Regions from separate parts of the Homo sapiens genome. Here all the other regions are linked to region 3. The links come from fine-mapping of genetic effects on plasma protein levels. Region 3 holds a variant in brackets. A gene starts in each other region. All regions are shown on their reverse strands.

Region 1 (4,347 bases), not on the chromosome of region 3:
CCTCAGCCTCCTAAAGTGCTGGGATTACAAGCGTGAGCCACTGCGCCCTGCCCATTTTTTAGTGTTTAAAGGCAATGCAGCCCTGCAGCATTTAGGTCTCCTGCACCATCATCATTATCGCCATCATTATCACTATCATCATCACCATCATCATCTTCATCATCACCATCATCATCATCATTATTATCACCATCATCACCATTATCATCATCACCATCACCATTATCACCATCACCACCATCATCATCATCACCACCATAATCACCAACATCACCATCTTCATCGTCATTATCACACCATCATCACCACCATCATCATCATTATCCCTATCATCACCATTATCATCATCACCATCATCACCATCTTCATGGTCATTATCACACCATCATCATCACCATCATCTTCATTATCACTATCATCACCATTATCATCATCATCATCATCACCATCACCATCATCATCACCATTTTCATCATCACTATTATAACCACCACCATCATGATCATTATCATCACTATCATTATCACAACTCTTTGCTGATTATCTTCAGGGCAGAATAGGGAGTGTTAATGGTTAATACCATTGCCAACACCCCAAAATAACAACTCTGCATGCCTACATTTGATGTCCACAGGCCACCTATTTCTTCTAATGTAGCCTGCCAGTCAACAAGTCCCACAGATCTAAACTCCCAAATTCTATCTATTATTACTAACAAAAATTCTTCTACTCATTCATTAATTATTTTAGAGGTAATTCAGCATGCTGTTTAGGCATACAAAGTCTGAAGTCAAAGTGCTTAGGTTTAAAAATCTGGCTTCACCAATTAATGATTGCGTGGCCTTGAGGAAGTTATTTAATCTCTTTGTGCCTCAGTTTCCTCCTTGGTAAAATAGGGTATTCAGATCCACTCTTCAACAGCAGAGGAAACCCATACTTGCTACTTAGAATATGTCCCCAATATCCTCCATTCTTAAATTTGATCCAATGACCAAAACACACAAGACATAGAAGAAAAACCAGAAACACAGAAGATAAACAAGGCTGAGACAAACTGACACCTGAAGAAAGAGAAATAAGAGCACAGGAAGGGTCTATCTCATCCTTCAGGACTCAGCTCGAACTGCCCCTCCTCAACCCCAGACTTCTCCCTTCAACATAACTCCCGACCACATTCTATAACAACTTCTTTCATAGCACTTATCACTACCTGAAATTCCTATGTTTACTTATTTTTTGGGGCAACATAGTATAGTGGAAAAGCTTACAGACTCTGAAGTCAGACTGTCTGGCTTGAAATCCTGCCTCTACCCCTTATTGACTAAGTGGCCTTGGGAAAATTATTTTATCTCTTTTGCCTCAGTTTTCTCATTTGCAAAATAGGACTAATAATGACCCAATGTCATAGAAATGTTGTGACAATTGGATACACTCTATGTTTAAAGAAGTTACAGCAGTGCTAAGTGGGCTATGATCATCTGTGCCTTCTTTCCTGTCTGCTCCTACCCACTAGAATATCAGCCTCAAGAGTGCAGGAACTTAGTCTTTTTTTCTCACTGCTATATCCTCTAGTGCCTAGAACAGCACCTGACACACAGGACTTGCTCAGGTCAAATGAATGACTATAGAGAAAAATCTATCCTAACAGATGGACTTCCCTGAGCTATGGAATTTTGTCAAAGGTTCCCTGAATGAAGGTGTTTGCAGCATCCAGTCTGGACTTATGATCTCTTGGCTGGACCATCCATGGCCCTCCCATTTCTCCTGAAGTCTATTTCCAATCCAGGCCTCCCCTAGCCCCCCATTCAGCCTCACACTCACCCCAGAAGAGGAGCAGGTTGAAGCCACGCATTATGCTGTAGTTCTGTCATTCAAAGAAAAGAAACTTTTCTACTAACGCTGGGTTTTCAGTAACCAGAAGGTGTGCGAAGAGGGGAAGGCGGAGTCAGAGTTGCTCAATGCTGCCTGGTCATCATAGCCCTTTTTGCTGACTTGCTGCAACTAAAAGACAGCCTAGAAAATCCTAATTTCCCCCTTTCTTCACAATAAAGAGAAGTTAATCTGCCTAATGTATATCATTCTCTCTCTCTCTCCTTCCCATGGTCTCTCCCTTTTTCTTTCCCATCAACATCTATCTCCCATCTCTCAACACCTTCTTTCATTGCACCCAATAAAGGAGCTTCCGCTTCCTGCCTCCAGTGAAGCAAATCTCAGCCTTTAGGGTCTCTTCCCAGTCTCCCGTATAAAGACAGCCATCACAACCATCATGTACCAGGCAGTGTGCTAGGCACATTGGCAACAAAGTGTAATTTCATTATCATGTTAACCTTGTAAAGTAGGAATTCCCCTCCCTCCCTCTATTCACCAACAAAATGGAAACTGAGACTTGCAGAGGAGTTATAACTTGTCCAAGATCTCTCAGACTTGAGATTTGAACCCAGGACCCTCTGATTCCAGAGTCAAGAGCTTTAACCATCTTATTTTCCTTCAGATCTCAACTCTGTCTGACGATTATACAGCAACACTTCCACCCCATTCCCAGCTTCCTAACTCTCTCTGGTAACATCTTAGGGTCTCACAAGGGCAGACCCTCAGACAAGGATTCTAGCAAAAGTAGTTTATCAAGAAGGTGGCCCCAGAAAGCACCAGCTGGGGGAGGAGAAAGTGAATCAGGAAAGGCAAAGAGCCAATACTGGGTGTGTCTTCAAATAAGTTACATGGTGAGAAAGTGGAACTTAACCTCCCCAGGGATGACTGGGGAGCGGCATGGAACATACTCTTCAGTTATTCCAACCGAGGGGTGAGGGAGCTGAGGTATTTATATCCCACCTACTGTCAGTCATGGGTTGACTTGAGGCTTGCTCCTAGAGGGTGTCAACCCCTTGAATCTTCAGGCCTGGCCTCCAAGCAGATAGAATGGGCTCCAGTTGATGTAATCCCACTGATAACAAAGTGTAGTGACTGGCAGATATTGAAGCAGTGTCATCCATCTGGGGTAATACCCGAGGTTCATTGCCTCACACCAAGGAAATAGAAAATACAGACATGGCCGGGCACCGTGGCTCACACCTGTAATCTCAGCACTTTGGGAGACTGAGGAGGGTGGATTACGAGGTCAGGAGTTCAAGACCAGCCTGGCCAAGATGGGGAAACCCCGTCTTTACTAAAAATACAAAAAATCAGCCAGTGTGGTATGGTGTTAGGCACCTGTAATCCCAGCTACTCCGGAGGCTGAGGCAGAGAATTGCTTGAACCCAGGAGGCGGAGGCTGCAGTGAGCCGAGATCGTGCCACTGCACTCCAGCCTAGGCAACAGAGTGGGACTCTGTCTTAAAATAAAATAAAATAAAATAAAATAAAATAAAATAAAATAAAATAAAATAAAATGCAGACACACAAAAAATTACTTTTAGAGCAGAGGTTTAGGCCGAGCACAGTGGCTCATGCCTGTAATCCCAGCACTTTGGGAGGCTGAGACGGGTGGATCACCTAAGATCAGGAGTTTGAGACCAGCCTGGGCAACATAGTGAAACCCCATCTCTACTAAAAATACAAAAATTAGCCAGGTGTGGTGGCTCATGCCTGTAATTCCAGCTACTCAGGAGGCTGAGGCAAGAGAATCGCTTGAACCCGGGAAGCAGAGGTTGCAGTGAGCCGAGATTGTGCCATTGAACTCCAGCCTGGGTGACAGAGCAAGACTCCATCTCAAAAAAAAAAAAAAAAAGAAAGAAAGAAAAGAAATTTAATAGGCGAGAGAAAGAGAAAAGCTCTCTCTCCTGCAAAGAGAGGGGGCTCCCAAGTGGGTCTTCCAGTTTCATGGTGAAATGCACGGGGTTTTATAGATGAGCTTTAGGTGGTGATATCTGATTTACATAAGGGCCCAAAGATTAGTTGGACCAGGTGTGCCGTTTACATAGAGTACAAAGAAGCTGGCTGCCCACCCTAATATTTTATTATGCAGATGGGGTCTCTACCTGGCCAGGACCATGTTGCCTGTTCCTTTACCGTACACGTGGTTGATAAAGAAAAGGGAACATGGAGCAAGCCTGCATGTTGAACACGCCTGGCACCCAGGTAGCCTATTCCCATTGGCACAGCTGCCGGCATTCACCCGAGCAAGCTTCCAGCTTGCTTTTCTATGTCTGCCGGCTGATTTTTCAGACTGCTCTTTTTTAGAAAAGAAATTATTTGGCCGGGCGCGGTGGCTCACGCCTGTAATTCCAGCGCTTTGGGAGGCCGAGGCGGGTGGATCACAAGGTCAGGAGTTTGAGACCAGCCTGACCAACATGGTGAAACCCCGTCTCCACTAAAAATACAAAAATTAGCCGGGCATGGTGGCATGCGCCTG
Region 2 (4,000 bases), not on the chromosome of region 3:
AAGTGGTGATGGGGGGACTCCCGGACAGGGACTCGGCCCTGGCCCCGGTTCCGGAACCAATGCACAGAGGCTGGGCGGTCAGGGCGGCTGAAGGAGCAGTTCAAAATGACCCAGTCGGAGGCTCTGAGAGATCCTGGGGGGCTGGCAGTCACTGTGCAAGGATAAAGAAGACTTCATCAGCCCACTGGAAACAATTTCCCAACACAGCAGGGCTGCCAAGCCGGAAGCTCCTGGAAACAGGCACCTGGCTTTAGACTTGTCTTCTCCTCTCCCACATCACCCTCTCCCCATCTCAGCTTCCAGCACCTGGAGGTGCATAAAGTGGATCCCCAAGACTCCCCAGGACCACTTTCCCCGTCCCTGGCCTGGAGTTTACTTGGCATCAGCCACCCTTGCCGTTTTCCTGGCCTGGAACCCCGCGAAGCCCACCCCCTGAGCTACAGATATCTGAAATGAATCACTTTAGCCCCATGCTCTCCCCCCCTCCCCCTCCCTCTGGGCACTCCCGCGTGGGTGGGAGAAGGGGAGCTCGGGGGTGACACAATCTCTCCACAGGGCCCCCCATACACGTGCTTCGGGGGCACCTTCCACTCCAGCAGGCCGCCCACCCCCTTCCTCTACTCTTCTGGGAGCTCTCCGACAGGGCCTAGGGCGCAGCCTCTGCCCCAGCCCTTCCTGCGTCCCGGGAGGCAGGGGATGGGGACCCACCTCCCAGCCCTTCTCCCATCGTCCCGCCCCACATACTCGAGGCCTGGCCCAGGCGCAGACGGAGGCGGCAGGAGAGGGCGCGGTCCCTGAGGTGCACCGCGGCGCGGTACTCGCCGGCGTCCGCGCGCCGGGCTGGGCGCAGCCATAGCGAGAAGTCCCCGCGCTGCCGGCCGCGCTCATCCAGCTGGACGCGGGGCTGCAGGGGCAGCCTCCCGCTGCGCAGGCCTCCGGGACCCACGCTCAGCACCGTGTAGCGGCGGGGCCTGGGCCCCCAGGAGGAGGGCGCCGCCGGGTGAGGGCCGGGGGCCAGGGGATGGCCGGGGGCGGCAGCGGGCGGGCCACTGGGCGGGAAAGAGAATGGAGTTGAGAAGCTCCAGGGGTAGGAAGCCCGGGAGGATGCAGGCAGCCACCCGTTGAGGATGAGAAAGCCCGCCCCAAGAGTTCTCTTGACCACCAACCGTCCCCTCACGCCCGACCCCTCTGTTGGACTGGCCGCATCCACTTCTGGAGAGAAGGGATGCTGGCGTGAGGGTCGCTGATTGCAGAGCAAGGGCAGGAACGGTGCAAGCGAGGGCAGGGAGACTGGGTCACTGGCTTCAGAGGGAGTGACACCTCAGGGCAGGGGACAGAGGACCGGCACGGGTGTGGGGTTGAGTGCTGGATTCGGAGGTCCTGTTGCCCAAGTTTGGGGTGCATACCTGTCTGGCTGATGCTGCCAAGTGACCCCTGCTCTTCGCAGAAGGCTGAGATCCTGGAGGGGGATTGTGGGGCTGCAGGGGAGCTGGGCAGGAGCCCCCTCCTGGGCCCACACCACCGGGACCTCAGCCCCTGGCTGGAGAGGCTTCACTAGGTGAGCAAAAGAGAGGCCAAGGGGAGGGGGCGTGAGCCGAGAGGCAGGGGTAGAGAAGGAGCCTGGGTGTTTCCCGAGGGAGAAACAGGGTGCAGGAAGAACTTGGGTTTCTGTTTCTTCTCTGCCCAGAGAGGCTTTCGGGGTGGAAGGACTGCCCAAAAAAGGGATTAGAAGAATCCACAGAGCTAAGGACCTCAGGACCTTTGTGGCCACAGAGATCCCTGCTGGTCCCCTCCTGTGGGGCTGGAGGTCAACCCTCCCGCCATCCCCGTTTTACCTGGAGCCACCCAAAGCGGCTGCAGAAACAGCAAGCCCAGGAACTGAGCCTCCCACATCTCTCCTATGGTCTGGGCAGCGCTGAGCCCTCCAAAAGGAGGTCAGAAAAGGAAAGGGGGCAGTGGTGGGGGGTGGGGGGTAAAGGAGAAGTTCTGCAGAGAGGGAGGTGGAGGAAGGGGTTCTAGAAGAAGGGAGACCAGGAGAGGGCCTTGGAGAGAGGGTGGGGAGGGATGACCAGAGGCCGGAATCCAGAGGAAAGCTGGAAAGCTGGGCAGATCAGGCAGCCTGAGGAGGTGGGGGCGGGGGTGTCCCAGGGAACAGAGCAGGGCCGTGGCGGAGAGCAGACAGAGCAAAGTGGCCGTCGTGGCTGGGATGCCGTTCTGCTGGTCTCTGGGCCTTCACCCCTGTGCCCGGCCTTCCCTCCACCTTCCCCACTTCCCCTCCTCCCGGCCCGCCCCCCGCACCCCAGGGCTTACGGTTTCGCTTCGCAGTGGAAAGTCTGAGGGGGTTGATTCCCAGCAGCAGCACCCTCCACCTCTCCACCTCTGTGGTGGCGCTCCCCTTGTTTACTTCCTCAGTCCTGGGTCTCCCCACCTCCCCCTCCTCGCCCCTGCCCCACCCTCCAGACTGCTCCCTCTCCCAGGGACCTTCTGCCTCCACGAACCATTTCTGCCTGGAACTGCCCCCTTGCCCATCTCTAAGCTGCCTCCTCAGTCCCAATATTCACACCTCCTTCTTGGCAAGCTCTTTCCTTGTTGCTCAATCTCCTTCCTCGTTCCCTTAACCTCCCAGAACTTCGTGACCCCTTTAGACCTGCCTTTCCACCCATCAGTACAATGTCCCTGGGAACATGGTGGACAGGAAGCCTTACTGCACCCCAAAAAATGGTAGGTCTGAGGCTAGGCATGCCAGCTTTGTGGGGCATGGAGAATAACTACATTGTATTGAGGCTTCATTACGTGCTAAGCACTGTATTGGACACTTTACTTATAGTAATTCATGAAATCTAATGCTTTTCCCCATTGTACAGATGAGGAAACTGAGCTTCAAAGAAATTGTACAATTTGCCAAGGTTAGGGAGCGTGAAGATAAAAGCTGTGAGTGTACCTGTGTGCGTGACAGTGTGTAGTCCTGACCTTGGATGAGTTACGGGCGTCTCCTGGGAGAAATGATGCTGTTGATGAGTCAACACCCCTCCCCACTCCAACTCAGGTCCCCATGCCCTCAGAAGCATCCTCCAGTCCAGAGGTTCCGAACTAAGAGGAGAAGGCAAGGGCCATGCGGAGATGGAGAAATGCAGAAATCTTAGAAATCTCCTAACAGAGATCAAACTCAGGGGAAACAGAGGCAGTGGGACTAGGGAAGGCCCAAGACTGACAAGAGTCATACAACTCCCGCTCCCCAGCCCAGCCCAGGGAGAGTTGGAGGGCAGGTGACGAAACATACAGCCGACCTGGGGATGACACGAGACCCAGGATTTCCCTGCTTGACTGGAAGGAGCTCGCTTCCATGCCAGGCAGAGGGCATCTCTGATGCCAGGCAGCTCACTCCAGATCCTAGCAGGCTGAGACCCAGGACTACCAGCCCTCTCCCAGCTCAGGGGAAGGACTTCCTGTTTCTGGGCTGTTTCTCTGTGCCTGGTTCAGCACAATAGAGCTGGTAGCTTTCCACTGGGCTCAGCAGTGTCTAGGTCTTGTGTGGGTTAGCAGGGAAGTGTGTATTGCTGGGGAGGAGCATCCCTGAGAATCCAAAACAGGACATAAGTCAGCTCTCAGAAGAGCTGGGCTCCAGGCCACCCCTGGAGGGCTGATCTTGTCTTCTTGAGTCGTGGGTGGTAGGAGTGTGCTGCTGCTTTTGTATCAAAGGGAAGGGTCCTGGCAGAATGGGAGGTCAGCCACCCTCCTCCCTCTCTACCCTTTTGTCGCACTGACTGGAGCCCCCGGGAAAGCAGGAGACAGGTTAAAAACAGAAGCGCGACCATTTCTTTATTAAATTATACAAAAAGGGAGGGGAGGGGGGCAGCTGTGGGGCTCGGCCCCAACCCCGGCCCCACCCCGGCCTGGCGCTGTCTGAGAAGAGGGGATCTGAGGGAGATCCAGGGATCAGGCAGGATAGGGATGGGGCAGGACATGAGGCTGGGGGATGCAGAGGTTAGGTGGGAGAGGC
Region 3 (4,349 bases):
AACACTTTCACATTGCAAATGAGGTACATAGGCCACTTTATTGATGAACAACTTTCAGAACCTAAATCTTTAAAATTGCTGAGCCAAGCTGCAACACTAAAATACATTATCTAAATTGTGCATGAAAACAATAAAAGACCATGAGTACTATTTTTTAGTACTACAAGTCAGGGAAGATTAACTTGAATTTAAATAACAAATAAAAGTTACCACAAAGGGAGCAAGCTTTTAAACTGTGAAATAGCTCTAGCTCTACAGTAGAAATCTTATGGTTTTCATATGATAATTTTTTTCAACATATCTTTTTCTATTTTTTAATTCAAAATGTAAAAGTAAATTATACCTCCAAGACCATGTTTTTCTCATTCTTTGTTTCAACAAATTGCTGATCTCTTTCAAAACTGTCATTTTCTGAAATGAGCAGTAGTGTACACAGAGAAATAAAAGAGGTTATCCAGAGAAATTGCAGGTGCTTCTCCAGCCTAACCTTAATGACAGTTTATTGCTGGTCCATGGGGCCCAGTTTTGTTTAAGCAATTATCAGACTGCTTTATTTATGGCGCCCTTGTGCCTGTTTTTGGCAATGGGGTCGCAATAAATTATCAAAATAACGTTAATGTTACAAGAATAGGCTACTTTAAAAATAGGTGGCACCAATTACAATTGAAGGAGAATAGTTAGATGAAGATTTAAATTATGCCAATTGCTCCTGGGAAATTGATGGGATGGATCAAGAGGATCTTCCCTGACTTCTAATACATGCATGCGCAGGGTTATTTCTCACAATTAAAATCAGAAATGTTAAAGGGGAACTTACAATGAAAGAGAAAGCCAATTAATCTAGTCATCATTAATCACTGAGAAAGACACAGTAGTATACTTAGTAAGTGTCCTAAAGCAGCATCCAGAGAGAGGGAGAGAGACCATCAATCCCAAAAGACTCAAAAAATCTTTAGGGAGATGTAGAATTATGCCAATAGTTTGCATATTATAACGATAAGACAAAGCTGGGAAGGCCTGTTCTGATATAACTTGCATGCACAGTCACACACCTGGGACCACGTAGAATTTACTACTAAAACGTGAATGGCAATTAATGTACAAAATATGAAAAACAAAGTTCAAACAATATGTGTTTGCTGTCAAGATTACTTCTAAGAAAATTTGTAAGGCAAGTTTTGAGTTGTAAGAGGCTCTTAGAAATAGAAACTGTGCTTTGTAAATCATACTGTAAGGCCAGATTAAAGAATTTCATAGAGAGATATTCACACTTAAGACTAACAAATGCTTCGATTTTAGAATAATTCATGAATTTGCTATTTTCTTCATGATGTCAGCTCATGTTTGGTTATTTGCTACTGATCATTTCATCTTCCCTTGCTTACAATTCCAGAATCATTTTATTAATTTATTTAATTATTTATTCATTCATTTATTCTGCTTGGTCAAAGTTTCAGGTGTTAAATGATATAGGCTTCATCACAATAGCAGATTTCTTCCCACTTTTGTTTATGTCTATCTGATTATGGTATCAGCATTATTTTTTCTTTCCAACTTTAGAGCTACAATACTCAGGTAAAGTCGGTCCCTGGGATTTAAAACTCAAAATAATTGAATAATATGACACCACAGTGGTAGAAACATGCTTCTATTAATATGAATAAAACAGAATCACAGGGTAAATGCACATATTAGACTTTTGTATGTGGTTGATTATAATGTATATATAATTGAGGATTGACCAAAGCATGGGTGCAATTAGGCATACAAGTTCTTCTTCATAATGGTATTTTTAGTGCCAAATATAGGTCTCCAAAAGGTTCTTGGTGGGTATACTTATTGTGAGATGGCATGATTTGTCTTTGATGCACACTACCCCATGTTAGAATGAGCTGTTTCATTTGGGGACACAACACAAGTAACAGCTCATCTGCTCTCATTTACAAGAGCTTCTATGTAGTAAAATTGAGAGTTGTGTTTTTTTCCAGCGAGTTCAATTATTTAGGGTAACCTCACTCCACATGGAACTCTTCCCCCAGATGTCCATGTTGTCCATATTGACAACTCCT[A/T]CCTTCCAAAATGTTTGTTGACTTCTTACCTTCTGGTTGAGCCTGCATTTGCCTCCTCTCCTTCCACCACACCTACCATCTTAATTTCTTTTTTCCTGCTCTACTTCTCTTATTTTTCATCACATATTTCTTTCAAATCTGCAATATAACTTACCTATCCATTATACTTATGACTTATTTGTTACTTTCTTCTTCAGGGTCAGATTTTCTTCTGTTTAGTTTATTCTTGAATTCCAAAGTGTTTGAGAAAAGAACTGGACCATAATAGGTACTGTGAAAGCTGATTATTTGAATTGGGGCATTCTCGTCATACCCAGTGAAAACAGAGTCAAGAGGGCAGGGGCAAAAAGCACTCAGGACACAAAACATTGCTCTCCCAAAATGTAATTCACTGCAAGTCTGGCTGCTGAAAGTGCCTGCTGTAACCTCACAACTGTTTTATCTAATAGTTGCCAAACAAACCTGCTACAAATCTAAGATTTACTTTACCCACCATCAGTCACCAGTCAGACGTTCCAGCTTCCCAGAACCTTACCAATGCTAATGAACTTTCTCAAAGAGCAATAATTAATATTTCTTTTTTTAGTAAAACCTCCAGCCTTCTCTTCATTCTTCAGACATGCTGAAGACCACTCGGTCTGAATATATGCCCTGATTTGCAAATTATTTATTTCTTAATTAAATGTTAAATTTAGAGATTCCTCTTTACATTTCTATTTTGACTTCAACAGTCCTCATTAATATTTCCTGAATAAATGAATAAAAATATCAGAATTAATGTGCATTTTGAAAAATCTCTTATGAAATATGAGAGAAAAATCTGTTATACGCTTAGATCCTTAACTTGATCGGTATTCACCTTGTAATATGCTTTTATCTTATGTAGTCTGGTTTTAAAATGTTAAGGAAAAAAATACACTTAAAAATGGACCTAGTCATTTTTACTCAGCAGTACCATATCATTTGAAAAACGAAAACACTCTAAGGCGGTTTTGTTCCTTTGTTTTTGTTTGGTCTGATTTTCTTTCTTTTTTTTTTTTCCTTATGTGTTCAGCCTCTTTAATGTGAATAACTGCTCTTAGTTAAACAGTCTCACAGCATCCACTTACAGTCTCCAAGTTGCTTTCACATTCTTTGTAAAAATAAAAGCTCAGTTAAAGACACTACTTTCTTTTATGGTGCAATTTGTTTGCTCTTACACTGGTTCACTCTCTTTGCCATTTGATTTCCTCAGTTGAGCAATTTATGACAGATTTTTAAGGTCTACTGTCCATTACAAAGAGCAGGTTTTAAAAACTCCATCATCATCATAAGCTTAATGAGTAAATGGCTGGAAGCTCAGCAGCTTGGTGGGGGGAGTGTGTGGAGGTTTGACTCTGACAGCCAACTTGCTGTTGCTGTAATTAATAATGAAATGTTAAGTCTCTTGCTTTTTATGTGGAGACAGGGAAAGTGACAGGGATTATGGAGAGAAATAAATTTACATTGTAGCTTTATAAAGCATCCATAGCTTTAGGAGCTCAATATATACAAAATTACTGTTAACATGACAGTTCCCCAAGAAAGTAGTTACAAAAATATTTAAAGCTCTGGGCTGAAGAATCAGGACATTGTAAGAATGGAGAGGAAGAAAAGACACTTTCTTGTATCCTGTCCCTCCTTTCCTGCTGCTCAATTTCTTTCTACTCAGCTGCTTATAAAAAGATGAAAGATATGCTAACTTGTCTCCCTGAGTGAATCTATTCAATGTCACCACCCACGCACTTTCCAACAGTGACAAAAGTTCCTATCACATTCCTCTTCTCAACTCACCTGATGGATCCCCCAACTACACCCCACCCCCTATCCTAGAAAATATTATATTAAGAAGTAGAAGAACTGTGGGATTATCTGAATGAGACCTGCCAGTGAAGTCCATATCACTGACTATTAAGTCATGTTTACCACAAGCTAATAGCCCATAGCTCAAGCGGAACGCTCACCATCTCTAGCCTTGTCCTTCTTCCAAATCAGTGCATGTAGGCATGTGCTATCTTTGCCTATTAGAAGTGATGGGTAGAACTCTTCATCTACCATTCGTGGAATCTGAAGATGGTACAAGGTCATGATGGTCACGCTAGCTTGGTAAACTGGTGGAAAATTAAGTGCAGGCTCTCATAATGAAACAAAATATTATCTGAACTGAAGCATCTTGGATACTGTTCTCTGTAATTCTTCTCCCATTTGCTTATTTATTCCTTCTTGTTTTCCCTGTGCAAACTGCATCATTGCTAATATGGC

Which allele goes with the higher level. Alleles are on the strand shown, and positions count from the first base shown. The strength of an association depends on the size of the effect and on how common the allele is.
In carriers of allele T in region 3, the plasma level of the protein whose gene starts at base 1,882 in region 1 tends to be higher than with A alone (weak association).
In carriers of allele A in region 3, the plasma level of the protein whose gene starts at base 2,226 in region 2 tends to be higher than with T alone (weak association).

Evidence for each region. PIP is the chance, under the fine-mapping model, that this variant and not a neighbour inherited with it causes the effect. The UK Biobank Pharma Proteomics Project read protein levels with antibody pairs (Olink). The fine-mapping took linkage between variants from a reference panel, not from the people measured, so its PIPs are less certain.
Region 1: ADGRE1 starts here. The variant in region 3 is fine-mapped to the plasma level of the ADGRE1 protein (UK Biobank, PIP above 0.99).
Region 2: LAG3 starts here. The variant in region 3 is fine-mapped to the plasma level of the LAG3 protein (UK Biobank, PIP above 0.99).

The regions. Positions count from the first base shown.
Region 1 is chr19:6,885,114-6,889,460 of GRCh38, reverse strand. It overlaps ADGRE1 (adhesion G protein-coupled receptor E1), which reads right to left and starts at 1,882. Exons shown (of 21, transcript NM_001974.5): 1 at 1,822-1,882. The coding sequence starts at 1,852. RefSeq lists an enhancer at 1,829-1,888.
Region 2 is chr12:6,770,746-6,774,745 of GRCh38, reverse strand. LAG3 (lymphocyte activating 3) reads right to left here and starts at 2,226. Exons shown (of 8, transcript NM_002286.6): 1 at 1,836-2,226; 2 at 1,407-1,554; 3 at 745-1,049; 4 at 1-151. The coding sequence starts at 1,893. It overlaps PTMS (parathymosin), which reads right to left. Exons shown (of 5, transcript NM_002824.6): 5 at 3,794-4,000. RefSeq lists a silencer at 637-966.
Region 3 is chr5:71,367,420-71,371,768 of GRCh38, reverse strand. The region is part of intron 2 of LINC02197 (long intergenic non-protein coding RNA 2197); the gene reads left to right. Among named protein-coding and RNA genes, the nearest start is that of LINC02197, 77 kb to the left of the region's middle. The variant A/T (reference allele first, on the strand shown) is at 2,070.